Linked DNA regions of Homo sapiens: all the other regions are linked to region 2. The links come from fine-mapping of genetic effects on gene expression. A gene starts in region 2. Each other region holds a variant in brackets. All regions are shown on one strand. Distances are between the middles of the regions. Region 1 has its middle 24 kb from the start of ACSL5. Region 2 holds the start of ZDHHC6 (zDHHC palmitoyltransferase 6). Region 3 overlaps ACSL5 (acyl-CoA synthetase long chain family member 5).

The links. PIP is the estimated chance that this variant, and not a neighbour inherited with it, causes the effect.
Region 1: its variant is the best candidate, but not a certain one, in a credible set for the expression of ZDHHC6 in nasal epithelium (TOPMed, PIP 0.75).
Region 3: its variant is the best candidate, but not a certain one, in a credible set for the expression of ZDHHC6 in adrenal gland (GTEx, PIP 0.59).

The regions. Positions count from the first base shown.
Region 1 is chr10:112,345,378-112,355,659 of GRCh38, forward strand. It overlaps the pseudogene GUCY2GP. Among named protein-coding and RNA genes, the nearest start is that of ACSL5, 24 kb to the right of the region's middle. The variant A/G (reference allele first, on the strand shown) is at 4,372.
Region 2 is chr10:112,440,821-112,451,102 of GRCh38, forward strand. It overlaps ZDHHC6 (zDHHC palmitoyltransferase 6), which reads right to left and starts at 6,094. Exons shown (of 11, transcript NM_022494.3): 1 at 5,885-6,094; 2 at 4,350-4,830; 3 at 2,695-2,786; 4 at 1,372-1,531. The coding sequence starts at 4,616. VTI1A (vesicle transport through interaction with t-SNAREs 1A) reads left to right here and starts at 6,395. Exons shown (of 8, transcript NM_145206.4): 1 at 6,395-6,647. The coding sequence starts at 6,554. RefSeq lists enhancers at 5,881-6,000, 6,201-6,460.
Region 3 is chr10:112,421,058-112,431,339 of GRCh38, forward strand. It overlaps ACSL5 (acyl-CoA synthetase long chain family member 5), which reads left to right. Exons shown (of 21, transcript NM_203379.2): 15 at 536-608; 16 at 890-978; 17 at 1,268-1,384; 18 at 4,281-4,424; 19 at 5,201-5,302; 20 at 5,731-5,802; 21 at 6,161-7,319. The coding sequence ends at 6,301. It overlaps ZDHHC6 (zDHHC palmitoyltransferase 6), which reads right to left. Exons shown (of 11, transcript NM_022494.3): 11 at 9,243-9,850. The coding sequence ends at 9,747. Among named protein-coding and RNA genes, the nearest start is that of ZDHHC6, 21 kb to the right of the region's middle. The variant C/T (reference allele first, on the strand shown) is at 5,342.

The DNA of each region.
Region 1 (10,282 bases), 95 kb before region 2:
CGGAAGCTCTTAGCACTTGGCCTAGTGTAAGGTAAGCCCTCCCTAAATGCTGGTTATTATTTCTGCATGTGGTAACAGGTGTTATCCCTATCTTACAACTGAGAAAACGAGAACAAGAAAGATCAAAGCAGTTGGTCAGCTGAATGTGATTTGAAAGCGGTTCACTCCCCAACCTATACTCATCCCCACCAGGAAAGCAAGAATGAGACTACAACCCATCTTCAGAAGTCTGTGGTGCCAGGGCCCCCATCACAGAGGCTGCAGATGGGAAGTGACCCCGGGAGACAGGTCTCACATTTCTGAATTTTATTCTTGATGGACTCAGTTTGAATGGAACTGCGGGGGAGAATTCCCAGGGGAAAGGGGATAAGGTGCCCAGCAGCCTCCTCTCCTGGTCTGGGCAGGCTCTGGCCAGAAGGATGAGCGAACTGTGGGAGCTGGGAGGTCTTAACCTCAACTACACTTACAGAAGGAAGACAGGAATCCCCATAAGAAAGATGAATTCTGGAGTTCAGTGTGAGGCAGGCCCTGAAAGAGGCCTTTAATTACATGCCCAAGATCTCAAAGCCCCCACCGACTGGAGCCGCAGGTCTGAGTTTAGAACACCCTCCAGCAGTAAGCCACCTACCCTGCACTGTGGTCTGACTGGAACCCTTCAGAGCGCTGACCAGCTGCCACCCATCCTGGAAGTCGCCTCCAGCCTTTACCACCTGCTTCACGGTCTCAGCATAGAGCAGGACGGCGTCGTGAAGGTAGGCAGAGTAAGGGCTCACCTTCAATAAGACAAGCAAAGCAGGGTCTCAAGAGGTTCTTGGCCTCTTGGGTCACCGTCCAGCACTAAATTAGGAGGAATCTCTGTTCCGTCCGCCCGGCAGTGGCACACAGCACTTTCTTCCCCCATCCCACAGAGCAGAGGGTCCAGCATACACCTGCGCCTGCACTATGAAACCCAGACGTCGCAGTCTTCATTTTCCTTCTGAATGCTGCGTTTCCCACTTAGATCTTCTGATCCTTCAGGGACGCTCTTCAGGCCACAGGTGGGAGGGAGCATGGTTTCAGGGAAAGAGGGTACATGCTGGAACTAGACCAGCTCAGCTCCCTACTGGCTATGAGTCCCGAGGTAAGTTCCACAGCCTCTCTGAATCTCAGCTCACTCGTTTATAAAATGGGGATAGGCTGGGCGCGTTGGCTCACGCCTGTAATCCCAGCACTTTGGGAGGCCAAGGCGGGCGGATCACGAGGTCAGGAGTTGGAGACCAGCCTGGCCAACATAGTGAAACCCCATCTTTACTAAAAATACAAAAATTAGCCCAGCGTGGTGGCAGGTGCCTGTAATCCCAGCTACTCAGGAGGCTGAGGCAGGAAAATCACTTGAACCCAGGAGGCAGAGGTTACTGTGAGCCGAGATTGCGCCACTGCACTCCAGCCTAGGTGACAGAGCGAGACTCCATCTCAAAAAAAAAAAAAGGAGGGGGATAAAACTGCTGTTGGGTTGAATGTGACAATAGTTAAATGAGGCATAATAGGTAAACTATCCATTGCAGTCCCTGACCCTTAGTAGGTCTTCAGGACGTGATGTCTTCTATTGGGCAGTCAAGGAAAATACAAGTGCCTACTAAGTGCCAGGCACTGTTCTCCCAACAGTACCAGATACAAAGCTGACACTTAGTAGACTGTTACTCAAATATTCTTTAATTGGTTATCTTGTCTTATATGTTGGGATCCACAATCGGCCCCCTCATTTCTAATCAAACTCCTTGTCATCAGTGGCCTGTGGTCACCTTAGGCTTCAGCTTGGCCCCACACTGGAAGTAGCTCCAGCTCTGGACAAAGGTCTCTCTTCAAAAACTTCTCTGTGAAAGCCAGATACTGCCTCCTCATCACACACATACTGGGATTACCACAGGCGGACCCTCTCTCTCCTGATCATCTCCTCCCTTTTCCAGCCCACCTGCTGGCCCTGACCTGTCCTAGCTCCACATCTCTGACCACTCCATCCTGGGTCTAGGTCCTGGCATCCTCCTGGGGAAGGAAATTGTCATGGTCTGGGTACCCATTAATATCTGTTCTGGGCCAGGCACAGTGGCTCACGCCTGTAATTCTAGCACTTTGGGAGGCCAAGTCAGAAGGATTGCTTGAGCCCAGGAGTTCAAGAGCTGCCTTGGCAACATAGGGAAATCGCGTCTCTACAAAAAAAATTTTTTTTTAATTATCAAGACATGATGGCATGTGTCTATATTTCCAGCTACTTAGGAGGCTGAAGTGGGAGGGTTGCTTGGGCCCAGGAAGTCGAGGATGTAGTGAGCATGACTGCACCACTGCACTCTAGCCTGGGTGACACAGCGAGACCTTCCCTCAAAAGAAGAAGATATATACTTTGCTTCTTCCATGGACAATGTTACTAAATACACACCACCACAGCCTGGGAGGTAGATGCCATTATCAGTCCCATTTCACAGAAGAAGAGACCGAGGTGTAGGGAGGTTAAGCAATTCACTACAAGGTCCTACAGTTAGCAAACAGCAGCAGTAGGATGGGGGCATAGGCCTCTGCTCCAAAGGCCTTTCACCCAGTAACCTCTGAGGTATAAATTCACAAGAGAGCATCAAACTGCTGTTTATTTTGGGCGTGGAAGATGGGGAAGTGCATGTGTGTGTGCACCTGCATGTGTGTAAGGGGGGTAGGGAGAGATGAGGAGAAATAAGAGGGAGAAATGCAAAGGCAAACACAAATATGATCAAAGAAGGGGAGGAGGGAGCCTGAGCTGGAAGACCCGGCATCACACCTGCTCCTCCCAGGAGATGGTGCTGCGGAAGGGCGACCTCCTCGGTGTTTGGTAGACTTGTTTCCAAAAGCCTTCGTCTCCACGGCCTTTTCTGTAGGAGCTGAGGGCAATGAGAAGCAGTGACCCATACACCTTTTGGAGGTGCATCATTTTCTGATTTGTCAGTACTTCCTTCCAAAAACGGTCCTAAAAAGTAATAAAATAAATGTTGTTATTCGGTAGGAAATGCCTTGGCAAGGGCACTGCGTGTAACACAATGTTTAATTTGAACCACTACATTCTAATTCCTGGAAACACAGTGATTCCAGAAGGCCTGCAATACAAGGTCCACATTCTCTAGCTGGCATATAAGCAGTGGAAGGAAAGCCACAAATAAAAAGAAAAAATGTTCCTGGTGCATACAGCTGCTAAGATGCAGAAAGCTTACCTACTAACAATGATTGCAAAAACTTAAAAAGCTTAAGACTATAGATTCTTGCTTTTTTTAAATTTTTTTTGCTTGTGGCATTATCATTATAATCTACGTTACTATTATGAACAGTATATACCCACTCATTATACATATATGTATGTATATATACATATATATGACATCACACTCACACATATATATATATATATGATGATATCATACCATAATGCAGCTTGATTTTTTTCCACCTAAACCTATACTGGGAATAGTTTCATAAAATAGATTTATGCTATTCTTTCATGAAGCAGCATGAATTCAATTGCATAGACATTGGTGTATTCTTAGTTCTACCTTCTTTCTGCCATTACACACCAGTTGGAATGGATCATCAATGTGTGGGAGAAAGCAACAGGGGAGTTGAAAAGTTTCCCTGCCAAAACAATGTGCCTGAAGGCAGAGATGAGAGGAAAAGTGAAGAGAAAGGGAGGCGGTCACAATGGATATCTAGGGTAAGAGAGTGTTCTGGAAAGTCTGGCATGCCTTTAGGATTCCAGCTCCCTACCCAAAGAAATCTGAGATGCTTTTGTGGATCTGAAAGACTTCATGATAAAGAAAGAAAAATCTGGGACATTACTATATATCTCCCTTTATTTTCTTCTGTCCTATTTCAGCTTCTTGTGATTTTTTTAAAAAGCTTATTTTAGAAAGATAAAACTGCTAGAAAAATAATGCACCGTGTCCATAGGAAAAGGCAAGTAGCTTTTGTAGATGCCTGTTGTGTAAGATGCTTACAAGCACAGACACAATAGCCCCCTGTGAGGCAGATACTACGTGCATTATTTCCATGCATCAGTGCACTTGATGAGAGGTAGAAAAGGAGCCCAGGCCACCTGGGTTTGAATGCTAGCTCTCCCTCATACTAGTTGGATGGCCTTGGGCAAGTTTTGGCACCTCTCTGAACCTCAGTTTCCTCTTCTGTAAAACGAGGATGATAAAAGTGAGGTGACAACGTGCTAGCAGCCCTCGCTCGCTCTTGGCGCCTCCTTGGCCTCGGCGTCCACTCTGGCGGTGCTTCAGGAGCCCTTCAGCCCGCCGCTGCACTGTGGGAGCCCCTTTCTGGGTTGCCCGAGGCCGGAACCAGCTCCCTCTGCTTGCAGGGAGGTGTGGAGGGAGA[A/G]TCGCGGGCGGGAACCGGGGCTGGGTGCCGCTCGCTGGACAGCGTGAGTTCCGGGTGGGGGTGGGCTCCGCACTCGGAGCTCCGGCCAGCGCCGCCAGCCCCGGGCAGTGAGGGGCTCAGCACCTGGGCCAGCGGCTGCGGAGGGTTCACCGGGTGCCACAGCACTGCCGGCCCGTCCGCGCCACACTCGAATTCTCACCGCGCCTCAGCTGCCTCCCCACGCGGCAGGGCTTAGGACCTGCAGCTGCCATGCCTCCCCTCCGCCCCCCCCGCCACCAGTGGGCTTCCGCGCAGCCCCAGCGTCCCCAAAGGGCCCCGCCCATCGACCGCCCAAGGGCTGAGAAGGGTGGGTGCGTGGCTTGGGACTGGCAGGCAGCTCCGCAGGCGGCATCCACTAGGCGAAGGCAGCAGGGTTCCTGAGTTGGGTCGGCACTTGGAAAACTTTTATGTCTAGCTAAAGGATTGTAAACACACCAATCAGCACTCTGTCTAGCTCAAGGTGTGTAAACGCACCAATCAGCACCCTGTCAAAATGGACCAATCAGCTCTCTGTTAAGTGGACCAATCAGCAGGATGTGGGTGGGGTCAGATAAGGGAATAAAAAGCTGCGTGGGCTAACAGCGATAACCCTTTTGGGTTCTTTTTGGAAAGTTTGTTGTCTTGCTTTTTGGGCTAAAGTTTTGCTGCTGCTTGCTCTAGCTCTATGTTACCTTTGTGAGCTATAACATGGTGCGAAAGTCTGCAGCTTTACTCCTGAAGCTGCCGAGACCGTGAACCCACTGGGAGTGATGAACGATTCCGGATGCGCCACCTGTAACAGCTGTAGCACTCACTGTGAAGGTCTGTAATTTCACTCCTGAGGCCAGCGAGACCACAAACCCACGTGAAGGAATGAACAATTCCAGCCACGCTGCGTTTAAGAGCTGTAACATTTACCGTGAAGGTCTGCAACTTCACTCCTTAAGTCAGCGAGACCACAAACCCACCAAAAGGAAGAAACTCCAGACACATCTGAACATGTGAAGGAACAAACTCCGGACACACCATCTTTAAGAGGTGTAACACTCACCTCGAGGGTTCGCAGCTTCGTTCTTGAAGTCAGTGAGACCAAGAACCCACCAATTTCCAGATCCAAAATACCCCATGGTGTGGTGGTGGGCTGCAATAAGCGTTAATGTATTAAGCACTCACAGTGAGGCCCAGTACTCCATAAGCTCTCCAGAAGGCAGAGTTGTGTGGGGTGAGCTCAGACTGAAAGGCCCAGTCTGGAAGACTAGGTATGCCACTTGGGAGTGCTGAAATCTTAGATAAGGTACCTTAATTAAGCCTTGGGTTTTTTTACCTGTACATTGGAATAACAATAATATCTACCTTCCAAGGCTGTTCGAAATACCAAATACAAAATGTACAGGCACATAAATAATGCATTTAGGAACTGCCTTGCAAAGCCATTGAGAATATTAAGTGCAATCGTGTGTAAAATGTGTAACTCAGTCCTCATAGTAAGCAGTTGTGTTTTTAGCCATTCTCATTACCAAAAGAATCAGACTGCCTAAGAATTGCTTCGTTGCATCTGTATGTTGGTCTTTCCAGCCCTTTGTTAAAGCTTCAGCAGGGACACGGCGGTAGCTGTGGAAGAAAAAGAAGTGAGAGCCGCTTGTGTCTGAGGGTCCCTTGGGAAGGTCTCAGCTGCCCGGTAGAAATGACAGTAGTTCCTCAACTGTTGTTGTCTGATACGGAATACAGCGGGCTAGGCCTTCAAGCCAGCTGACCTAGTTCATGGCCTGGTTCAGCCTTTCACTAGCTGTGGAGAAGAACTCTGGGCAAGTTCTTCCAGCTCTGTCTTAGTGTCCTAATTTTAAGAAGAGGACGCGAGAGTGCCTACCTCACAGGGTTGTAGTGAGTGCTCAGTGAGCTAATACATGTGGGTCATAACGAGTGCTCCATACTTGCTACCTCTTACTACCAGAGCCATTGAGTGGTCAACGGTACCCACCTCCAACTGCTGCAAAATGATGAAAACAAATTCTCCAGTGCTGAGTCCCAGGTTTGCTGCAGCCAGAAGAATAATTTTTGCATCCTCTGAGCTGCACGTTAAGATGATAACTATAAGAATGAAAACCAGAGTCCGCCAGTTGCACATGCTTGTGTATGTGTGCTTTCTCACGCATGCTCTCACTCTAAGTCTGGCCTAAAGTCACTGTAAATGAGACGTGAACTTTTTCTTTCCTTGGGCATGCCTTAAGAAACAGGAATGCCTAAACTAGTCCCTGAGTTTTTACATTCTTTAACCAAACCTGAAGTGTACAAACTAGCAGTTATAGCACTGAAGTCTTTGCTGCAGCCTCCCCACAATGTACAAGTGAAAAAAGTTTGGGATCACCTCTGTGCTCTAGGTTTTTTTTTTCTTTTTGGCTCAAAAATCAGAACAGCAGACCTGGCTTGTGACTTGTCAGCCACACTTCAGCTAAGAGGAGTTCACAGAGGACCTTTGGACATGTGGACTTTCAAGGGCATTTGGACTTTCTGAGTTGGGCTGGCCGGAGGGAGGAGTAGGCCATGGTACTTTTCTGCCGTTTAATCCCATCACCGTTCATTTTCAGAATACACAAATGAAGTAGTGGGTTTTATTTTTTATTTATTTATTTTTGAGACAGAGTCTGCTGTATTGACCAGGCTGCATGGAGTACAATGGTACAATCTCGGCTCACTGCAACCTCCGCCTCCTGGGTTCAAGCAATTCTTATGTCTCAGCCTCCAGGACAGCTGGGATTACAGGCATGCACCATCACACCTGGCTAATTTTTGTATTTTTAGTAGGGACAGCATTTCACCATGTTGACTAGGCTGGTCTCCAACTCCTGGCCTTGAATGATCTGCCCACCTCAGCCTCCCAAAGTGCTGGGATTACAGGCGTGCGCCAACGCACCCAGCTAGTTTTTTAAATGAAGTAATTTATAGTCTATTTATCTGAGCTCCAATTATGTGTCAGGCACTTTGCTGGGCACAGACATAGCAGTGAACGAGCCAGCAGACAGCATACAAGTGGACAGATTAAAGAGATCATTGAAGATTCTAATTAGTGAGGTTGGAAACGGATGCTGTGATGCTAATGGGTGGGGAGGGGAAACAGCTTCACATCAAGTGGTTAGAGAAGGCCTTCCTGAGGAGGTGGGCTCTGGACCCAGTCGGCAAGGATGCAAGGATGAGAGGACGCTACCCTTAAGAAGGTGCTGGGTAGGGTGGAATGTGACTGAGACCACATAACAATTGCCTCATTGGATCAGTGTTGGTCTTTCAAGCCCTTTATTAGAGATTCAACAGGGACACAGGGAGGTAGCTGTGGAAGAAAAACAAGTGAGAGCCACTTGTGCCTTAGAGTCCCACATTAGCATCACTGGTTGGAGTGGGTGCAGGTGACACCCTAGGCCAAGGGAGTAGAAAACCCTAAAGTCTCAGGGCTGGAGAGAGTTCAGTTTATTTGAGGAACAGAAAGGAGTCAGTTACTAATTCATGCTAGAAAGTTGAGCCTTATAGGCATCACCACAAAAATAATTGCTGTCATATGTTGACCAACTACTTGTCCAGACATGGTGCTAAGCACTTTACAGGCATAACCTTATTTAATCCTCCCCTTTCTGTGACATAGGTAGGATGGTTGTCTCCATTTTATAGAAAAGATATTTGAGATACAGAGAGATTAAGGTACTTACCCAAGGAGGACACAGCTAAAATGTCAGAGACTGGATTCAAACCTAGGTCTGTCAATCTGCAGAGCCCATGCTGTAAACAAATAGTGAAGTCCAGGACCCAGCCCACCTGTAAGATGCTTCTAGAACTTGCGCTGTGTATCATAACACTGTAGCATGTGGGGTTTTACTTTAGACCAAAAAAAAAAACCCACAATTTTTTGTTAGTGATGTCAAGCAATAAAGGAAGTTGCTTTTATATATTATTAATTTTGTACCTTGTTTCCATCTGCTTTTACACTCATAGAAAAGTGAAGAGTTTTTTGGGTTGTTTTTTTTTTTTTCAAATCTGCTTGTCCCATTTTTCTCTCCAAATAAAAGCAACAGAAGACTTTTCTACTTACCCCTGGCAATTGATGATATCCTCCAAAGATGCTCTTGAAGAAGGACTAGACTATTGTTGGTGTATCTCATGCTGGCAGTGATGATAAAATGGGATTTGAGTTCATTCTCTACAACCCTCCACAGTTCATCCACTCCATCCCAGGAGGAAGCCCCAGAGTAGCCTCCAAACATCCCAATGTGTTTCCAGCCCAGGTACTGGAGACTTTCCTGGAGCACATCACCAATGTCCTGCTTGGGTGACACAAGTTTCACACAGGTGTCAGACAGTTTTGTGGTTTGTCCAACAAAGTCAAACATGGGGTGTTCCACTCAGAGGCCAGCAAGCCGATAACCTTGAAAATAACCCAAAGGATGTCTTTGTATAATTGAGTTTATGTACACGCAAACCCCAGTGTGAGACATCTGCATAAACGTCAGATTCTGTGAGTCTGTGGGTCATACTGGGCCCTCGCTTTTGTAATGTTGATGACAACGTCAGCCTCATAGAACAAAGATAACGAAAGCGAGCATCAATTGAGCACTTACTCTGTGCCGAGCACTCTAGGAGCTTACATGTGTCATTTCAACTTTCACAACATTTCTAGGTATTATTACCCCCTCTTTAAGATAAAACAGGAAGACACAGAGATGTAAGTTACATAGCTAGCAAATAGTGGAGCAGGGTTGGAAATTAGGTAATATGGTTCCATGGCCCACAGTCATAACTACTCATTCTCTCTTTCTTAATTTCTCCTTTATTCATTTTTCATTCATTTTAATTAGGGGCCTATCACATATAAAAATCTTTGGAGACCTTGCTCTTGAAGGAGCTCATGGTTTATTACAAGAACCAAGGTATATAAAAAATAGCTTTAAGATTAAATATATTCTTTAAGATGCATAGATAATAGATTTATAGGCATTTAGAGAAGTAAACAATTACTTTCGATTGGGGAATTAGGGATAAGGAGGGCAGAGGTGAAGGGATAAAGAAAGGCTCCATGACATTTGATATTAACTCTTAGACAAGTAACCCTTGAACAGATAGAAATGTGTCAGATGGGGAATTCCAGGAGAGAATGGGTCCAATTTAAATGTAAACTTAATTCTGCAGCTCCAGCTAATGATAGTTCTGCAACATTGTTGAGAGTAAGACCTGTGCTGCTCCTTCCTGTTCACCTTTTGCATCAACACTTTTCAGGCGACATGATACTGAAGGACACCAACAAAGTTCATCCCAACAACCAAACAAATACAAGTCATTCATTTCCCTCATTTTCTTGCTGTAGGTAAGGTAGGCTGCCATACTTGATTCTTTCTCATTGACTTGCATTATCACTGATTAATTTATTATATACGCCAAAGAAAAGCCTACTCAAACAATTGATAGTTTTCTATTTAAAACCAAGCATTTGTTTCTTCTTCTTCTTCTTTTATTTATTTATTTATTTATTTATTTATTTATTTTTTGAGACGGAGTCTTGCTGTGTCACCCAGGCTGGAGTGCAGTGGCACAATCTCGGCTCACTGCAAGCTCTGCCTCCGGGTTCACGCCATTCTCCTGCCTTAGCCTCCCGAGGAGCTGGGACTACAGGCATGCGCCACCATGCCCGGCTAATTTTTTTGTATTTTTTTTTAGTAGAGACGGGGTTTCACTGTGTTAGCCAGAATGGTCTCCATTTCCTGACCTCGTGATCCACCCTCCTTGGCCTCCCAAAGTGCTGGGATTACAGGCGTGAGCCACTGCGCCTGGCTGCATTTTTTTCTTCTTAATTTTCCTAAGCTTTGTAGCTTAGGAACATGAGAGTGAACTATAAGAGTCTATACACAATAGCATC
Region 2 (10,282 bases):
AGCTATTTTTATTTTATTTTATTTATTTATTATTTATTTATTTGAGACGGAGTCTCACTCTGTCGCCCAGGCTGGAGTGCAGTGGCACGATCTCGACTCACTGCAACCTCCACCTCCCAGGTTCAAGCAATTCTCCTGCCTCAGCCTCCCGAGTAGCTGGGACTACAGGCATGTGCCATCACACCCGGCTTATTTTTTATATTTTTAGTAGAGACAGGTGTCACCAGATTGGCCAGGCTGGTCTTGAACTCCTGACCTTGTGACCCACACCGCCTCAGCCTCCCAAAGTGCTAGGATTACAGGCGTGAGCCACTGAGCTGGGCCAGCTATTTTTAATTAATATAGTAATGAGCTCGGACCGATGTGCAGGATATCATTCTTAGTTTTCTCAAATGTTACTTTTTGTTGTTGTTGTTTCCTCAGAAAGTGTCAAGGAGACCTTACCAACATTAACATACATAAACAACACTAGACACTAATCTAAACCAGAACTATGTCTTTTCTCTTCTCTTGCTATTCTACATCGCAGTATTCTTCCACAGTGACAAGTGCTGCCTAGGATTCAGTTGTTTCTTCCCTCATGTTTTACAAATGGTGATGAAGAACTGATAAAATGCAGGCCAAATATGGCCACAGATGTGTGCTGCCTGGCCTGCATAATGTTTCAACATTCAGAATTAGGTGCCAACATTTAAAAATCAAGAGATTTCACATAAAAATCCAGATTTTCAGATTTTTCTGGGCTAGAATTTCCAAACACCACAAGCTAGCAGATCAAATATGGGCTGTCCCCTCCCCAAAGGACAGACTCTCCAGTTTGGCAGTCCCATCAGGTGTGTCTCTCGTTTACTTTCAAGGCCTGTTTAGGGAGGTTTGTGTCCCTTGAACTTTATCTCATGACTACTTGCCCATAAATCAACTTGATCTCTTGCTGGTTTAATCTGTTTATATTTTATGGTATGCATCTGCTCCATGAGCCACCTTCCAGGGCACTAGAATCAGAAATGAACAAAGAACTACAACTTGCCACATGAATGGGATGAAAGTAGGAAGCACTAGTGTTGTCTTTTTTTCTTCTATTCTTTCCATAACTATTAAGTTTGAAGTCTAACAAATTACATATACAGTACTAAAATATTTATCACCTTCAACTACAGCATGTAAGTTTTCAGAACAAATACTCTTTCCTCATCTTAAAATTTAAGTTTTAATGCTTTCTAAAAAGGAACCCATATACCAGTAAAACAAAGTTCTATTTCCCCAACTAAATCACAGAAAGCATATTTCCAAAAGGAACCTCTTAAATGTTGATAACTACCATTTAATCTTGCATGGATGATTTTATAACAAAACATTTTCATTTTCACTTACCCGATGATAAAGCTGTGTGTACATAGTCATCACAAAAATGAAAGCAGCATGGATACAACCCAGTGGTGCTAAAAGGAGAAACAGTGTGAACGAAGCATGATTTTGGTAACCACAACAGTTGTTGATCCAAGGACAGTGATGGTCCATCTTCATCACACATCTAACAAGAAAAATTTACATAAAACATGAGGCAGAAAATCCTGTCTACTTTAAATAACTTTGGTCTTCAAAAGATCAAGCAAATAGGAATCCAGCATGTCCATGAGCTACGAGAGAATTATACTTCATGGAACAGAAAGAAAAATCTTTATGAGCTTTTAAACAATTAAGTGACTCCTTTTAAATTCTAAACAGCACAGGAAAGGGCAGGCTTTCTAACAGCTTCTGAGGAAAAGATGTCAGCTACAAGTATTTGTTTAAAGAAGTCAGGAGACCCACTGAAAGAGGGTCTCTTTATAATGCTCATTATAAAGAAATGAGCATGGTTCCTGGTTTTCTTCTAGTTTGTAAGTGCAGTGACCCAAGTGACCTACAATAGAGACTCAACAAATCCCTTATAGACCTCCAGTGGGGTTAATGGGCTCAAATAGACACATGTAACTTCCTTCCTGTTCTCATAGTATCCTTTAGTTAATGGATCTCTGAGCTAAGCAAGCTAACTCCAGAATATAAGATATGGTATAATAAACAAAGTCTTGCCGTGTACTGTTGATAGAAGACAATGTTTTGGCCTGAAACAAAACTTTATTTGCTTTCAACGGTTCTCTAAATTTCTTACTAATCAGTGATTATAGCTGTTCATTAAAAAAGGTCACAGGTTATTTCATATTTTTAATAGTCAGTTTTCTTCTAAGTTTTTGATATTAAAACATTTGTGATAATAGGCACCTGGATTATTAGATGTGTATAAAGTGTAAATGTTTGTCAATAAGTAATGGGAAAAGCAGATCTCCCTTATAATTTAGACTCAGAACAATTCTAAAGTTAGTCCAGATGGCAGCTGACTAACACAATTAATCTTGATATATGGAAACAAACTTAAGGTTTATACCTTTTTCCCTTGTTCTTGTAGGACAAGAGGCAAAGTAAATCTGTATTTTTCTGGAAAATCTTTTCACTTGTAACAAGGAAGAATTAAATCTATTTATTATCTAGATAATTTAAGTATAAAATGGCGATTATGGACACAAGTATTCTGACAATATTGTTTATAATATGGTAACCTTGCAGTGAATAGAAGTAGCACTAATGTAGTATAAGCAACAATGAAAACATCAGTAATTAGTTGATCAGTCCTCGCTGAACAGCAAGAAAGACAGGTACCTGTTACACTTTCTGCAGTGATGTGAACGTGGTGCCTTGTATGCTTGGCAGACTTTACAATACTGGAGATACATGGTATCCTGAGAAATTTCCTTGGCAGCAAAACAGAAACAAAAATGCATCATCGGATACTTGAATATAAGTATGATTCCTACGGTATGATTTTCTTTTATGGGCGATAGGGGAAGGAGAGAATCTTAACTTGCATTTCCAGTCCTCTTATTTGAGCTAAAATATTTTTAAATAAGTTTTCTGGTAAGAGCAGCATCACTTTCCCAATTACCCAGAAGTCCTTTTAAATTTTTCTTCCTTGTGCTCCACCTAAATTCAGTGTCACTAGTTGGTTCTACTTACCCCAAATCTTAGTGGATTCAGGAGTTCAGAAAAAGGTAGCTGACAACTTAGCAGGTATTTTAGAGTGAGGAGTTAATCGTGAGTTGATAGTCCTACTGAAATCTGCTCCCTCCTTGACATTACCCGTCACCACCCCTTTCTTGGGCCATTTTAATCACTTCCTAACTAGTTTCCTTTACTGTAGTTTTTCTTCAGCACAAACCGTGTATTGTCAAAATAATATTCCTATAATACACCTCTGACTGTGTCAGACTCTGCCTGAAAACCCCTACAACTTTCTATGGTCTACAATTTCTCATGTATTTAAGACTGTCACAATCTGCCTTTGTTTCAGCTGTCTCTGCCCTACATGATCTTTTCCCCAGTCACACAGGGCTGTCTACTGTTTCTGAATACGTGGTCCCACCATTCTTTCAACCTGAAATGCCCTCTTCCCCATCTCCTTTGGAAATTCCCACTCCTCCCTCAGGTCCCCAACTAACAATGCTCAATTCTTCTAACTTTAACAGCACCCATCACGTTCTACTTTATAGTTTAGTGATTTGCACAAGTGCGTTTGTTTCTTGCTTAGGTTATAAGCTCTTTCAGAGTTCAAATTACATCTTACCCTCCTCTGTACGCATTTTGAATAGTACATAGCACATGATATACACCAGTGCTTCCCGAACTTTAATATACCTAAGCATCACCTGGGCACTTTATTAAAATAAAGATTCTGCTTCAGTATGTCTGAAGTGGAGCCCAAGATTCTGCCTTTCTGACAAGCCATCAGGTGTGGTCCCTTAGCAGGAAACATGGACATTCATAAGCATAAATTTCCCAGTAGTTTTTAAGCTATAAATGGATTTGGACTATACTTCCCAATGTTATATTTTCAGTGCAATGATTTTAAAACTTTATGATTTAAACCAGCAGTTTCTAAAGCGTTTTTCTCAGTTCTAAGGGATGTTAATGTATTACATGAAAAAAGGTACTACAGCCAAACCTCACTGTGTATGACATGTGATGTTTCCTAAACTTTTGACCATGAACCTATCCCACCTCCACCCCACCTCCATCTTTTTTTTAATGCAGAGCAAATATTCAATAAAATTGCTTTGGAAAATGCTATTTTGGATCAATGTGTTCAAACAGATATGAAATAAAGTCTCCGAGCCTAAATGATCAGTGATTAGAGTAATATACTTAGTCTCTGTGAGGACAAACAGTAGGCTGTGTTTGGTATTATTGGTTAGTAGATAAGGCAAAAACCAAATATACGATTATCATTAAAGTTCATTGTCTTACAGAATCTTTCTTACCGGTTTCCACCCCAGAGGGACAAAGCCCGGACCGACAAACATGGCATTGAAGTAATTATAAAGAATCATGACAGTCCAATTTATCAACATGATGAAATTCACACTTCCTCCAGTTGTATGTAAGGGCCAATACCACAACACAGAGTCAATCATGGCCATGGTAGAACATATTGCTATAACACCAAGGGCTATGATGGGACCCCAGTGACACAGTCTCTTTAATTCTTGTAGATTTTCAAACTTGATAACCGAACAGAATGTACCCATTTTGGCAAGGAAGAATGCCTTCCTACTTTAAAAGAATTATAGATTTCCTTTTTCTGTGCGCACATTTCCATGTGCCACAAGTCCATGTGTGTTCTTTAATTGTCATGCCTTCAAGCTGTGAACTGTTAACGCAGATTACACCATTTTCACTGTCAGGCACCCAAAGCTCTTTATCTTAACTAGGAGAATCCAGTGTCTTGGTCTGAAACCCAACCTAAAGAAAACAAAATGGGAAAGTTCAGTTAAAACAAAACAAAACAAAACCTTTATTGCATACCATACTTGTTAACTACAATAAACACCTACACAACAGCATCTCACAAGTGCACTACACTTTGGGATGCATATCTTGTCAAATGTCAAAAAGAACTACTTTTGACTTATCCAAAATATGGTACAAGTTTGAATGGCATGCAAACTGGATACACGATTCCAAAATAGTTTTTTTTATTCCTTCTCCGCTTGTCAGGGGACTGTCACCATCCAACGCTTAGTGAATAGTTTGAGAAGACAAAGAATTTTAGGACCTTAGAGTTGATCTAATTCAGTTTCCTTCTTCATAGAACAGAAATTGTCTTAGAGAGGCTGAGTGATTAGACCAAGGTCACAAGTAACAGGTGAACCAGAATAGAAGGCAAGTCAACGACCTCCCTTTATGAAATTCTAAGCTGCCTCTTATGAAGTCTTGAATTAAGCCAAGTATGAGTCAGACATGGTCTATGCCATTTGCCTGCAGTCTCCTCCACCCCGCCACCCAAACATCAAGAGAACAGTCAATTTGGCCCAAAAGTAAAGGAGCGACAGTGAAAGCAAAGAGAGCATGCAAGGAAAGGAAGGGAGGAGATAGAGCGAGAGTGTGTGTGGTGTGTGTGAAATTATGACCAGAAGAGTATATGAGAAGAACCTGAATTAGAAGATTCGAGGGAAGAAAGAAGAGGAAGTGCCTCCAGGAGCGAGGGAAATGGAAGGCAGGGCGGCGAGCTCCGGAGAGATTTGTGGAAGGGCATCTCTGCCTGGACTGGATCTGAAGATCTGGAAGAGGATCTGAGCTACATGGATAATACAGACTACCACGCAGCAGACGCTGTTGACTTGTGCCTCAGTTTCCCGCCCGAGTCATGGAGCAGAGGGCTTAGAAATAAATCCTCACCCAAGGAAGAAATATCCTGGTAAGCCAGGTTGGTCTCAACATTCAGGAGAGCCTGCTCCCACTCTGGTGGGACAAAGACCACCAAAATCGTGCTTATATTCCCTGCCTTGACTCCCACCTCAGTGTGGTCCCTGGTGTCTGCTCCTCAGCCATCGCATATCCGGGGCGGCCTGGGCTCACCCGGAACAGATTTTTTCCTCCTTGGATGACTCCGTCATGGACACCTCAGCCCAGGACAAGCAGAGAGCAAACCCTGGCAGCGAGAGGCTGGAGTGCGGGACCTGCTACAAGCCGAGCACCTCTCGGCCAGCGCCCTCGCCAGGACTCTCCCGCTCAGGCCCCCTGCGCAGTCTCTGTTACTGTCACTTCCGGAGGTTCGCCGCCTCAAACCTCCCTCCGGAAGCAAGCTGCTGTGCCTTGTAGCGTGTGGATCCGGAGCCGATTCCCAGAACACGAAGGGGGGAAAAAACGCTTCTAATGATCCCTCAGAACTTGCATATTTTCATACGCTTTTCTGGGGGGAGGCACTAATTGGGGCGCTTTTCCTTTGCGAACTTACTTATCTTAAAGTCGGAGCGGAAAATAAAGCACGCACGCAACCCAATTTCCGGAGAACCGAGATTGCGACGAACAACCAGGAAGCGGCTGGGTTGAGAGCTGTCCCCGGTTCTCCGTTCTGCTCTCGGGGGCACCTTCCGGGGTTCCTAAGCCGCGGGGCCCCTCGCTGCCCCTCGAGGCCCTTTCCCTGACCTAGGCTTTGGCCTGGGCTACTCGTTCCGGAGCCGCCATGTCGTCCGACTTCGAAGGTTACGAGCAGGACTTCGCGGTGCTCACTGCAGAGATCACCAGCAAGATTGCGAGGGTCCCACGACTCCCGCCTGGTGAGAGCCTTGCCCGGCTGGACGAGGGTGCTGGGGAGAGCTGGGAGGGTGCGGGCGGTGGAACGCCGCCCGAGTAAGTGTGTCTATGAGGCGCGAGGCTGGAGTGGGTGGTGCCGGCTGTTCCCAGGAGGGATACGGCTTGGCTTGGTTGAGGGTAAGGAGTCAAGTTCGGGTGTGGGGTGCCGTGAAAAGAGCCTTCGGAATCTGAGCCATCTGAGTTCGAATCCCGGCTCTACCTTCTTGTAACTTGCATAACCTGGAAACGTTTCTTAACGTCTTAAGAGTCTTAATGTTTTCATTTGTAAATTATAGACATGTGAGTATTCAAAGAAAATGAATGAAAGTATGTAGCCTATGGATCTACAATCTACAGCGGCGTTGTTGTGTTAGTAATAATATTGTTATAATTATATGCGGCAAAATAGAGGTAAGAATCAGGGTGCCTAGATTCAAATCCTACCTCTGTCACTTAGAAGTTGTGCCTCTTAACCCGGGAGGCGGAGGTTGCAGTGAGCCAAGATCTCGCCATTGCACTCCAGCCTAGGCAACAAGAGTGAAACTCCGTCTCAAATAAATAAATAAAATAAAAGTTGTGCCTCTTAAACAGACTTCTTAGTCTCTTTCAACTTTCCTTCTTAGTAAATGGGGGAAAATTGTACTTCTCTCATGGGGTTGTTAGGTAGATTAAATTTATATAACATATTTAAAGTCACTTTTGGTGTTGTTAGTTGCTGTATTAGCATTAGTATTTTTCATACCCCCCACCCCCATTTCTTGTTTCTCATCCTTCTTGGGGATTTATTGTATAACCCAGTTTCATGTAAAACTTGGTACAAGATAATTTTTCACACTTAAAAATTTCACATCTCCCATCTGGAAATGTTTTTGTTTTTGTGTTTCCTTTTGTGTTTTAGCACATCTTATTTTCTATGCTAGACTGTCAACTATGTGAAGGTGGGAGCTGTGTCTGATTTCCTTGGCGTTTACTTATTAGGGGCTCAGGAAAATAAGTGAATGAGCAGGTGAATATAAATATGATCTTTTGTAACTATGGTTTGTACAATGTTGATTCGGGGACTATCTTTCTCTACAGATTAGAGTAGTTAGTTACAGAAAAGGGTTTTACATTTTTGTTTAGTTTTGTTAGGGAAATTGAACCATCATCTGGCTGCTAGACTTGTCCCTACCCTAGCTCCAGGATATAAAGTGTAGAAAGGTGGATGTGCTCATTAATCTGCGGATTGGTGGGCACTTCACTTGCCCACTTGTCCTGGTACTAGCAATAATTTCTCCCGGACCTAAGTTGTCATTCCTCTTTCCCTTTCCCTACTTCCCCCAAAACTTATGTGTTTATAAGTAATTTTCTTCCCTTATTTCTTTGTTTTTCTTCCCCTCACCTATTTTCTGTTAATAGGGATATTTGCTTGAAGCCAGGATCTCTGAACTTATACCCCACTCATCTCCTGAAGTCCCCAGTTAGTTCTGGAGGAGATGGATGATGTCTTAAAGAGGTTTATGAGTCCAAGTAAGGGAACAAGAGGAGAGAACCAAGGTAGTATATACCACCAAGCTCTGCTGCCTCAGAGATTTTTGTGTCGAAAGTGGCTGATGGCCTCATCTCTTCATGATACATCACCTCGCCTCTTCTCTTCAGTTCTGCTTTTCTCCACTGCCGGAGATCGTCTTGATTTTTGTTATTGTTGGAGACTACTTCCTTTGAATTGAGTCCCAGAGCCTCAGAGTATCAGGACTTGTGGTTCCAGTTAGAGTTTTACTCATTTTTAATTGTAATTGTTTTAGCAGTAGAAACATTTCTTTGGGTTATTAGTTTTTGTATTGGGAAGCTGTTTTACAAGGTAACAAAATCATCCTTGGATGCAAAGTTGTAAATTTCCAAGAAAACAGATCGTGTTACAATTTTTTTCTTGCCTTTATATTTTAATGTGACAATTCTTAACACATAGAAGGAAACTTTTTGAATTCAGTACCTTAAAAATAAAACTGGGCAGAGCCCGGTGGCTCATGCCTATAATCCCAAAACTTTGGGAGGCCGAGGCAGACGGATCACCTGAGGTCGGGAGTTTGAGACCAGCCTGGCCAACATGGAGAAACCCTGTCTCTACTAAAAATACAAAACTAGCTGGGCGTGGTGGCACATGCCTGTAACTCCAGCTGCTCAGGAGGCTGAGGCAGGAGAATCGCTTGAACCTGGGAGGTGGAGGTTGCGATGAGCTGAGATTGCGCCATTGCACTCCAGCCTGGGCGACAAGAGCGAAACTGTCTCAATAAATAAATAAATTAAAAAAAAACTATGTCTTTCCTTAGCTGTAGTATTATATAAGGCCCAAACACAGGAGCTTCATTACAATTGAAAGGAGACTGCATTGCTGGCTCTGGAAGAATGCTTACTGACTTGTATTATTGAATAATCATAATTCTTTTTTCTTTATGAGATGGGGTCTTGCTGTATCGCCCACGTTGGAGTGTAATGGCGCAATCTCAGCTCATTGCAACCTCTCCCTCACGGCTCAAGTCTACTCCCACCTCAGCCTCCCGAGTAGCTGGGACTACTCAAGCCACTGTGCCCGGCTGATTTTTTTTTTTTGTAGAGATGGGGTTTTGCCATGTTGCCCAGGCTTGTCTCAAACTCCTGGGCTCACGCAATCCACCCACTTGGGCCTCCCAAAGTGCTGGGATTACAGGCGTGAGCCACCGCACCTGGCCTGATCATAATTCTTAAAAACGCAGTAGTTGCCCTCTTAATAATGACTTGTGCTTGCCCCTTTTTAAATCTATTTCCAATTGATGTATAGAAAAAGATGAAAAATATATCCATGTAGTTATGAATTTCAGATGTATGTCTGTAGATGAACAGACATTAATATATATAACCATGGCAAAAATAGTTTGATGACAAGTAATTATAATCTCTCTCTCTGGCCATCATTGGCGAGTGCAGTGTTGAGCTAAAAGTGACCCAGAGGAGGTGAACTATAATTTACTTGAGTTAAGAAGGATAAAAATTGGAGCAAACTTTCCAGCCAAAGCAGTTAATTCCCCCAACATAGTAACTTACTTAAATTCAAGTAGAGTGGGTAGATCTATTGAAATGAACTTTACTCTGCTGTGCATGTTACAATGTATTAAAGTATTGCTTCCAAAGAGAACAGAAGAGTGAACATTTAAAAATTTTATTTTAAGAAAGAAATCTGATTACTCTGTGATATTTTTTAAACAATAAAGAGATTTTGCTCTTAAAGTGTTTGAATCTTAACTAATTTTAGTAATTGAACTGAGATGGGTGAGTTCTTTCTTAATACCCTATGGCACTATATTTGAACATTGTTTTTTTAATTATTATGGTTCTGTGGGAAAGTAAGGAAAAGGGATGAGCAGAAACTATACAGTTAGTACTTTATTGTGAAGTTCCTTTTCCTCTAGTGATGGGAGTGAATTCTTAAGTGGGGAATGTTTTCCTCTGGTGCAAAGATTCTGTTACACGAAATAGGCTTCCTGAAGAATTTTAAAGTAGTCTTTTTGCAATTAGTTGCTTACTTTACCATTCACAGAGAGGGAATGATCTGTTGTGAATCCTGTCACTTTATGGCTGTCCTCAGAATTGTACCAAGAAAGTA
Region 3 (10,282 bases), 20 kb before region 2:
GTCTATTTCCAGACCCTTTTGGTTTCTGAATGGCCAGAAGGCTTGGTAGTAAATACTTTGCAGCTTGGGTATGAGTTCAAGGTTTTTTGTTTGTTCGTTTGTTTGTTTGTTTGTTTTTTGAGACGGAGTCTCGCTCTGTCACCCAGGCTGGAGTACAATGGCGTGATTTCAGCTCACTGCAACCTCTGCCTCCCAGGTTCAAGAGATTCTCCCACCTCAGCCTCTCAAGTAGCTGGGATTACAGACACCTGCCATCATGCCCAGCTAATTTTTTTTGTGTTTTTGTAGAGATGGGGTTTCACCATGTTGGCCAGGCTGGTCTCAAACTCCTGATCTCAGGTGATCCTCCCGCCTCGGCCTCCCAAAGTGCTGGGATTACAGGCATGAGCCACCGCCCCCTCCAAGTTCAAGGTTTTAAGACACTAAGTGGTCTCGAACCCTTAGAGACCTTGCTTTCCTCGTGTCTTGACCATAGCACGTGGCCAGCTCACACTTTATCTTGAGTAAGTCTAAAAGCTCTTCTTTGGTTTCCCAGGTGTATGAAGCTTATGGTCAAACAGAATGCACAGGTGGCTGTACATTTACATTACCTGGGGACTGGACATCAGGTAAGTCCTCCATCTGCTGGGCAGGAGGTGCCATGGTTGGGAGAAAGGTTCTAACTGAACTAGGACTTTGGAGTTTAGATAACTTCAGTTCTCTGGACTAATGTGGCAAATGCAAAATTCAAGTTTTGGGTCCAGGCCTGCCTATCTTGGCTAGTCTGCATTGGTGCCAGGTGATTTTTCAGTCTTCCTCTTCTAGAGTCAATTCATAAATATCTTAGAAATGTGCCTGGAATTATCACCATGCAAGAGTTTCTCAGCTAATTCAGCACGGTATGTTCTAGGTCACGTTGGGGTGCCCCTGGCTTGCAATTACGTGAAGCTGGAAGATGTGGCTGACATGAACTACTTTACAGTGAATAATGAAGGAGAGGTGGGTAGGTCATGCCCTGTGGTCAGACAGTCATGGTGGGGAGGTTTATATCAGAAAGAGCAAATAATTGTAAGCAAACTTGGATTTGGCCCCTTTGAGATTGTTAGCAAAGAATTAAGCATTCTGAACTTCACTTTCCTATCCCCTATAGTGGAGACTTAGATCTGGTGCTCTTCACAGTGTAGTGGAAGCCATCAAATGATTTAAGGGGAGCAGGTGTTTCATAAACTGCCCACGCTGGGAGGAGCAGCCTTTGCTATTGTCACCGCCTTGTATGTCTGCTGTGCAGGTCTGCATCAAGGGTACAAACGTGTTCAAAGGATACCTGAAGGACCCTGAGAAGACACAGGAAGCCCTGGACAGTGATGGCTGGCTTCACACAGGAGACATTGGTCGCTGGCTCCCGGTAGGTATATCATCAGAACTCCTGGAAGTCTATGCTAATGGACTGAGAAGAACAATCTGCTTATAGCAAGAGGTGCAGAAATGCAAGTAGGTTAATCAGCTGAGGCAGCTGGAGGGGATTAGGTTTGTACCCTACCTGGCTTATGACTTCCTCATACTATCCAGAGAAGAACATACAGACTGAGGTGGTGGATCACCTGAGGTCAGGAGTTCAAGACCAGCCTGGCCAACATGGTGAAACTCCGTCTCTACTAAAAATACAAAAATTAGCTGGGCATGGTAACGGGCACCTGTAATCCCACCTACTTGGGAGGCTGAGGCAGGAGAATCGCTTGAACCCAGGAGATAGAGGTTGCAGTGAGCCAAGATTGTGCCACTGCACTCCAGCCTGGGTGACAGAGACTCTGTCTCAAAAAAAAAAAAAAAAGAACATACAATTGAAAGAATCTAGGTTAAGTTAAAAAAAGGCTGGGCATGGTGGCTCACACCTGTAATCCCAGCACTTTGGGAGGCCGAGGCGGGCGGATCACAAGGTCAGGAGATCGAGACCATCCTGGCTAACACGGTGAAACCCCGTCTCTACTAAAAATACAAAAAATTAGCTGGGCGTGGTGGTGGGCGCCTGTAGTTCCAGCTACTCGGGAGGCTGAGGCAGGAGAATGGCTTGAACCCAGGAGGCGGAGCTTGCAGTGAGCCAAGATCACACCACTGCACTCCAGCCTGGGGGACAGAGCGAGTCTCTGTCTCAAAAAAAAAAAAAAAAAAAAAAAAAAAAAAAAAAATATATATATATATATATATATAGGCTGGAAGTCATGAGATTTGTGTTCTGGTTGCAGCTCTTCCATGGATCAACAATATAAAATTCTGAGAAAGTAATTTAACGTGTGAATAGGAGCTGCCAAAGCTAGAAAGTCTTTCTTAAAAAAAAATTTTTATAGAGATGGGGTCTCGCTGAGTTGACCAGGATAGACTCAAACTCCTGGCCTCAAGCAATCCTCTTGCCTTGACCTCCCAAAGTTCTGGGATTGCTGGTATAAGCTACCACACCAGAAGTACTGCCAGAGTACTTTTGGTATTTTGATCACACTGTTACAGAAGACACCAAGATGTAGACCAGTTGAAGTGTTTTCTTCTTGCCTTATTCCTTATCGAATATACAACCAGCAAGCAGTAAGTCAGTGATCCTAGCACTGTTTTTAGACCCAAACTGAAGGTGGGATTCTTTAACAGGTCAGGTAGACCTGCACATCAGAGTTGGCATGGGTCCCCTGCAATGGAATAAATTTGCTACCAGCCAGGGAAAAATTAGGTGACTTCTCTAGGAAAGGGGAAGGGAGATGTACTACTCTGTCCTTTTTTTTTCCCCCTTAACTTTTCTTGAGGCAGAAGTTGTGGTTTGAAGCCAAGTGTGGCAGCTCACGCCTATAATCCTAACACTTTAGGAGACTGAGGAGGGAGAATTGTTTGAGGCCAGGAGTTTGAGACCAGCCTGAGCAACATAGCAAGACTCTGTGTCTACCAAAACAAAACAAAACAAAAACCCAAAAAACTTTGGTTTGATAATGCCGTTGGTCCACAGCTTTTGCCTCTTATGAGTTTCTTGGGATAAATATCCTCCCTATTAATTCACAGGCATATCAAAACAAGGAAGAAGGATTTCTAAATCAAGTGTTTGCAGAGGCTAGTGTTTGTCTCTCATTGACCTTCACAGCCCCTTTCTGTGGAAGATACAGAGACATATTTTTAGCATAGCTTGATAATTAGCAGTAGTTGCTATTAGTTTTCCTAAGAAGAAAGGAAATTATTGCAAGGGCAGTGATGGGATTTCCCAAAAGATCTTCCCTCTCAAAAGTTTTGTCTTAACTATGTGCTGGGGAAGTGGGAATGTCACTAGAACTTAAAACTCCTTTCTTGCTCAATCAATATTTAAGATTTAAGTGAGATTTAAGGAATGCTTGACAATGTAACTTTTAAGAACACTGGTCCTAACGATGCATTTTATTGATTTGGGTTTGGTAGTATCTTGCTAATATATTTGTTTCTGTCTAGTAACAGAATTAAATAACACTCTAATAAGCCTAGGATGTAAGCAACAGATATGTCCCCACACCAGGGTTATAGAAGGCTGCACCTTATTAATCACTTTCAGATAATGAACGTTAGGCTGAATTGATGGCTAATTTATCAAGTCGGCCTTGTGATAGTTCCAGTGTTGGTTTAGTTAGTCGCCCTACTTAGGGTGTTAGCATGTGGATTTTATTTGCCATTTGTCCCAATTCTACAATTCAAATCCCTAAAGACCTAAGCTCCTCAGACCAATTAGTTCAGAGAAATGAAGCTGCAAATGACCTTTGGTGGCTGGTCAGAGTCCTCTCAGCCCTGTTGCTGTCCTAACAAGCCCAGTAATTGAGTTGCTTGATTAGCACAGTGGAGCTGTTTGAGCCTGCTCCCGGATCTAACAAGGAGGAAAACATAACAGGGAGTCAAGTGGTGGGAGAACTATTCAAATCAAATCAAAAGTCTAAACAAAAGACAACACCTCTATTTCTGAGAGTTCTGAAAATGAACTAATTGGAAATTAGTGATTGGAAATTGAGAGCTGTGCAATTTCTTCCTTGGATGAGGCATCAATTTGCATAACTCCAGTAGATCCAGGAGACTTTCTCTAAGGCTGCGCATTGACTCTCCACATAGATATACAGTAAAGACAGGTTCTTGCTGCACGATGCTTCCCTCCCCTTTCACCAAAGCCAAGAAAGAGAAATGAAAGACAGCTCAAAAGTCTCTGGAGAAATCAGCTTTAGAGAAGAAAGATGACTGTGACTTCACCACTCTCCCCACTGATATCATCTCTGTGGCTCAAAAATACTGATACTTTTATCTGTCTCATGTAGAATGGAACTCTGAAGATCATCGACCGTAAAAAGAACATTTTCAAGCTGGCCCAAGGAGAATACATTGCACCAGAGAAGATAGAAAATATCTACAACAGGAGTCAACCAGTGTTACAAATTTTTGTACACGGGGAGAGCTTACGGGTAATATATCATTTTAACAATAGCCCATTTCAGTCACAAACCATGCTGGTTCTTGTAGCTACAGGAAATTTGTATAGTTGGGTTCAGAATGAGAAGATCCAAGCTTATAAAACTAAAAAAAAAAAAAAAAATGAAGTTACATTCCAAACCTCAAATAAGGCAATTTCAATTTAAAAAATTTCAAAACTATGATGGACGTTGTACACAAGTCAGTAGAATTGTTTAGAATGGCTATACTAAAAGGTAATGATTCAGTAAAAAATGAGCTCCACATTGCACTTAGTTCCCATTCCTTAAGGAGTTCCTTAAAGCTATGTTTAAGAGCAGTATGTATAAAACAACAAACTGTTGCAATATATATAAAGCAACAAACAAAAGTTTGATCAACAAACTGTTGTTTTATACATACTATGCTTAAACGTAGCTTTAAGGAACTCCTTATCCCAAAACAACGAACTGTTTTATACACACTGTGCTTAAATGTAGCTTTTAGGGGACAAGGGGAGAGTTGACATGGACAAGCCAGAGGCGCTTTAAGCTTAATGTTGAAGGATCAGATTTGAATGGAACATCTTTGTAATGAGATATTGAGTGGGAAAATGGGATTACAGTTCCATGGTGTTGAAAATATATGGTGAGAAAAGAACACTAGTACTGGATTTAAGGTTTTGGGGAAATAACTATTACAATGACATAATTCTGCTTTATTTAACTACTGGGGGACATCCCTACATAACTTCTCTCATGCCCTTGCACCTTTTATTTCCTTTCCATAGTCATCCTTAGTAGGAGTGGTGGTTCCTGACACAGATGTACTTCCCTCATTTGCAGCCAAGCTTGGGGTGAAGGGCTCCTTTGAGGAACTGTGCCAAAACCAAGTAAGTCTTGCCTAGGAAAGCTTTATGCACACCCATGGG[C/T]CCATCGTGGAGGAGAGGATGCCTCACCAGTTCCTGCATCTGTCACAAGTGGCTGCAGCCCAAACAGACTGAATAGTTTTATGGGACTCGGGGATAGGATGGAGAGTTTAAAAAATAAAACTCTCTTTTCTATTTAAAATAATATGTTCATTGTGGGAAAAGATTGGGAAAGAAGAGTAAAAATGCTATTCAGAGAAAACTGTTAACACTTAGATGTGCCTTTTCTTCTCAGTTTTTCTTTCAATATTGGGCATATAATGTGCTTGTGCATAGTTTTATATTCCTGCTTTCATACTGCATGGCTTTGACAGGCACTTTGAGTTGGTTCATGCTTAGCCCTTCAGGCTTTTTGAAACAGCCATGCTTTAAGTGATGTTTTGTATTCTTAGGTTGTAAGGGAAGCCATTTTAGAAGACTTGCAGAAAATTGGGAAAGAAAGTGGCCTTAAAACTTTTGAACAGGTGTGTGCTACCACTGATGTTATACTGGCCTCTTGTCAGAAAGTTTTGTTTAAAGTTTCCATCTAATGAGGTTTAAATGTATAATTTCTAAGGAATTGATTTTAGATTTTGTGCCATTAACTACAAAATGACCTTTTGTAGTTACTTGTACAGCGCCCTTTTTTTGCTGTTTATTGTCCATTCTCCCTTCTCCCTACTCATTACTTTCTTAAATTATGTTTGTGGGAATGGGCATGTGTTACTGTTACCTTTACCCTTTCACTGCATCAACCTCACTTTCTTCACAGAGCACTCAGGGGGCTCTGCAGAGAAGTCCAAATCACTAATGAGCATGGATGTGTGTGTGTTCATCTTCCAGGTCAAAGCCATTTTTCTTCATCCAGAGCCATTTTCCATTGAAAATGGGCTCTTGACACCAACATTGAAAGCAAAGCGAGGAGAGCTTTCCAAATACTTTCGGACCCAAATTGACAGCCTGTATGAGCACATCCAGGATTAGGATAAGGTACTTAAGTACCTGCCGGCCCACTGTGCACTGCTTGTGAGAAAATGGATTAAAAACTATTCTTACATTTGTTTTGCCTTTCCTCCTATTTTTTTTTAACCTGTTAAACTCTAAAGCCATAGCTTTTGTTTTATATTGAGACATATAATGTGTAAACTTAGTTCCCAAATAAATCAATCCTGTCTTTCCCATCTTCGATGTTGCTAATATTAAGGCTTCAGGGCTACTTTTATCAACATGCCTGTCTTCAAGATCCCAGTTTATGTTCTGTGTCCTTCCTCATGATTTCCAACCTTAATACTATTAGTAACCACAAGTTCAAGGGTCAAAGGGACCCTCTGTGCCTTCTTCTTTGTTTTGTGATAAACATAACTTGCCAACAGTCTCTATGCTTATTTACATCTTCTACTGTTCAAACTAAGAGATTTTTAAATTCTGAAAAACTGCTTACAATTCATGTTTTCTAGCCACTCCACAAACCACTAAAATTTTAGTTTTAGCCTATCACTCATGTCAATCATATCTATGAGACAAATGTCTCCGATGCTCTTCTGCGTAAATTAAATTGTGTACTGAAGGGAAAAGTTTGATCATACCAAACATTTCCTAAACTCTCTAGTTAGATATCTGACTTGGGAGTATTAAAAATTGGGTCTATGACATATTGTCCAAAAGGAATGCTGTTCTTAAAGCATTATTTACAGTAGGAACTGGGGAGTAAATCTGTTCCCTACAGTTTGCTGCTGAGCTGGAAGCTGTGGGGGAAGGAGTTGACAGGTGGGCCCAGTGAACTTTTCCAGTAAATGAAGCAAGCACTGAATAAAAACCTCCTGAACTGGGAACAAAGATCTACAGGCAAGCAAGATGCCCACACAACAGGCTTATTTTCTGTGAAGGAACCAACTGATCTCCCCCACCCTTGGATTAGAGTTCCTGCTCTACCTTACCCACAGATAACACATGTTGTTTCTACTTGTAAATGTAAAGTCTTTAAAATAAACTATTACAGATACTTACGTTGTGGTGTTTCTTTCCTCATGGACCATGATGAAAATCAGTCTTAAACAAGGACCCCTTAAAAATCAAGTACAGTATCTGTTCTTAAACTTGGGTACACAATAGAATTATCTAGGAAGTTTAAAAAGACACTAATGCCCAGCACTTTGGGAGGCCGAGGCGGACGGATCATGAGGTCAGGAGACCGAGAACATCCTGGCTACTATGGTGAAACCCCATCTCTACTAAAAATACAAAAAACTAGCTGGGCGTGGTGGCGGGCACCTGTAGTCCCAGCTACTCAGAAGATTGAGGCAGGAGAATGGCATGAACCCGAGAGGCGGAGCTTGCAGCGAGCCGAGATCGCACCACTGCATTCCAGCCTGGGTGAAAGTGTGAGACTCTGTCTCAAAAAAAAAAAACAAAAACAAAACAAAAAAACCACTAATGCCTGGTTGCCACTCCAGGGATTCTGGCTTAAATGGCCGGATACAGCCTGGGCACTGAGATTGTTAAGAAGACCCACAGATGATTCTAGTCTGCGAACAGGTTAGTGAAGAAAAGTAAGTTCTGAAGACCAAACCTTCTTATCCCATAGCTGTAAAGAATAAAACAAATACCAGCTGAGCCAAAACTCCAACTGAGCACAAGTCATATCCATTCTTTTACCATCTTTGTTGTACTCTAATTATAATCTTGAATATTAATAGTATTCTTTTCTGGCCTCCAACTGGAGTTAAAGAGAATGTTCTTGGATGGTCTTTCTAGATTTTGAGCCCAGAAAAGCCAAAGAAATATCTATTCTTAAGGATCTGAAACAAAAGGGTAGGCAGGAATTAACTTTTAAAGTCTAGCTCCCATTATCACTTTAACTTTCTCGCCTTCACTTCCTTTCCTATTCTCCCCTCACGCATTACAGCTGAACCTCACTAGTTACCTTCCTGTTTCTCAAACGTGTCAGACACAGGTCCAGCCTGTTTTTGTTCTTGCTGCTGTCTCTAAAATGCAAATATCCCAAAGCACATGACTTGTCCCCTCATCTGCTTCAAATGCCAACTCAAGACTGTCCTACCTTCTTGCTTCACAATAACATGACTCCATCTTACATATATTTTACCTGTCTGTTCACTGCTGAATTCCCAAGTGCTCTTCCCTTATCCTCAACTATTACAGGCCTGGCCCCCAAAGCTTCACATTCCCTGCCTTGGAAAGGTTTCTGAAGTCCAGAGAAATAGGCTTTCTCTTTCCTTCTGTGATTCCACTGTTATGTTTAGACAAGCCCAATTTAAGCATCCAAGCCCACCAGCTTGGATCCTACCACTCACACAAGCTTCAGCTTTTTACTCAAGGGTACATGAGTAGTTTGATATCACTATGTTTAAAGTCTAGAACACTACTGCCACGGGATCCTTGGGGTGTTGCTTCCCCAGCTGGAATCCTCTGTGGCTGGCAGCCCAAAGTCCAGAGGGGGCCTAGGCGGCAGGGCGCTGGTGTCAGCACCACTCAGAGCTCACGTACACCTGGCCAGGTCCTCACAGCACCCGGGCTTGGCCTCACCTTTGCTCCAGAGCGAGTGCCAGGAGCAGGAAGAGGCCAAGCAGTTGTTGGGGGGGGGGTGTGGGGGGGGTATTTCCCCTCGGCCCCCTAGAGCACAAGGATGCCCGGGTCCGCAGCCACGGCTGGACAGCTGTAGCTACGCTTGGCTCCTGCCTATCACGGCTCCCCCTCAACACCCCTCAGGCCACCACTGCCATCCGCTGCCATCACTATGACCGCAATATCCCATTAATAGGGTTAATATCTTGAAGCAAGTGTGTCATGTCTTAAGCCACGTTTTAAGATGCCAGTTGTCCACAGGGCAGCAGAGCAGTTTTTCCATAAGGAACTAAGATGAACCTTTTTAGTCAGCAAAAAGAAAAATGCTTTAAGTAAAAACTGATTATACCCAACATCCATTGATCTTTATTTGATTTGACAAAATCTGCATTTTTAAAAGACAGGTAACAAAATCTGAGGTTATACTGAATCTGACAAATTGAGTTCTATAGTATCTAGAATATCATATAAGAAATATCAACTGAGGGAAAAGAGAAGTACCACATGCAGATGCTCCTGGCAAGGGGGGAACTGTATCTGCAGGTGAGGTCCAGAGTGTGCAGTGCATAAGAAAATCCTACAGAAAATGCCGTTAACTTACTTGGATGAAATGTTTTTCCTTTGAGGGGGAGGAAGAGGTGGTAAAGAGGGGCAGGAATTCAAAGGCATATGCAGAATGGCTTCTCCATTTCAAAATGGTAATAAAAATATTTAAATCATGGCACTAGGGCACCTTTGAGGAAAAGAACATCTTAACCAGAGTAGGCTCATTGCATAATTCTTTAGTAATATGTACAATTTTCAAGTAATTAAGCAGACTTAAAGGATAATTTTGTTTTAACAGCAGCTATCTATTTTTCTTCTCCCCCTCTGGGGCTTGATCTGTTTCAGCATCACAGGGACACTTTTCCACACATTTTCTAGGGAACCAACCCCTTATTCTTGAAACACCTGAGGGAGAAAATGAAATTGAGGTGAAATAGTCTGATGGATGACAGTGACATTACTGAAAGCAGTAAGTCCTATTACTTCAAATTAATAAGCTTGTAGTTAGACTTTTATTCCCCACTTTGCTATCTATTATAAGCACAGTTTGAAGGGGAAAAAAATAAGATTTTTAAATGTTCATAACAAGCTAGGAACAGGTATTTCCCAAATTTGATGATCCCGAATAGGGACTAATGTGGTTAAAGACAGCTCCTAACTAGAGTCAGGGGGAACTCGGTATGGGTGTTTACTTATATGTGTATGATCAGGAAAGGTGTTTTTGGCACACCATCACACTGTCTTTTCCAGGGAACTATCTTCTTGTAGTCTTTGTAAATTTCCTTTTTAGACTTTTTCTAACATATATATTTCTTTCTTTTTTTTTTTTGAGATGGA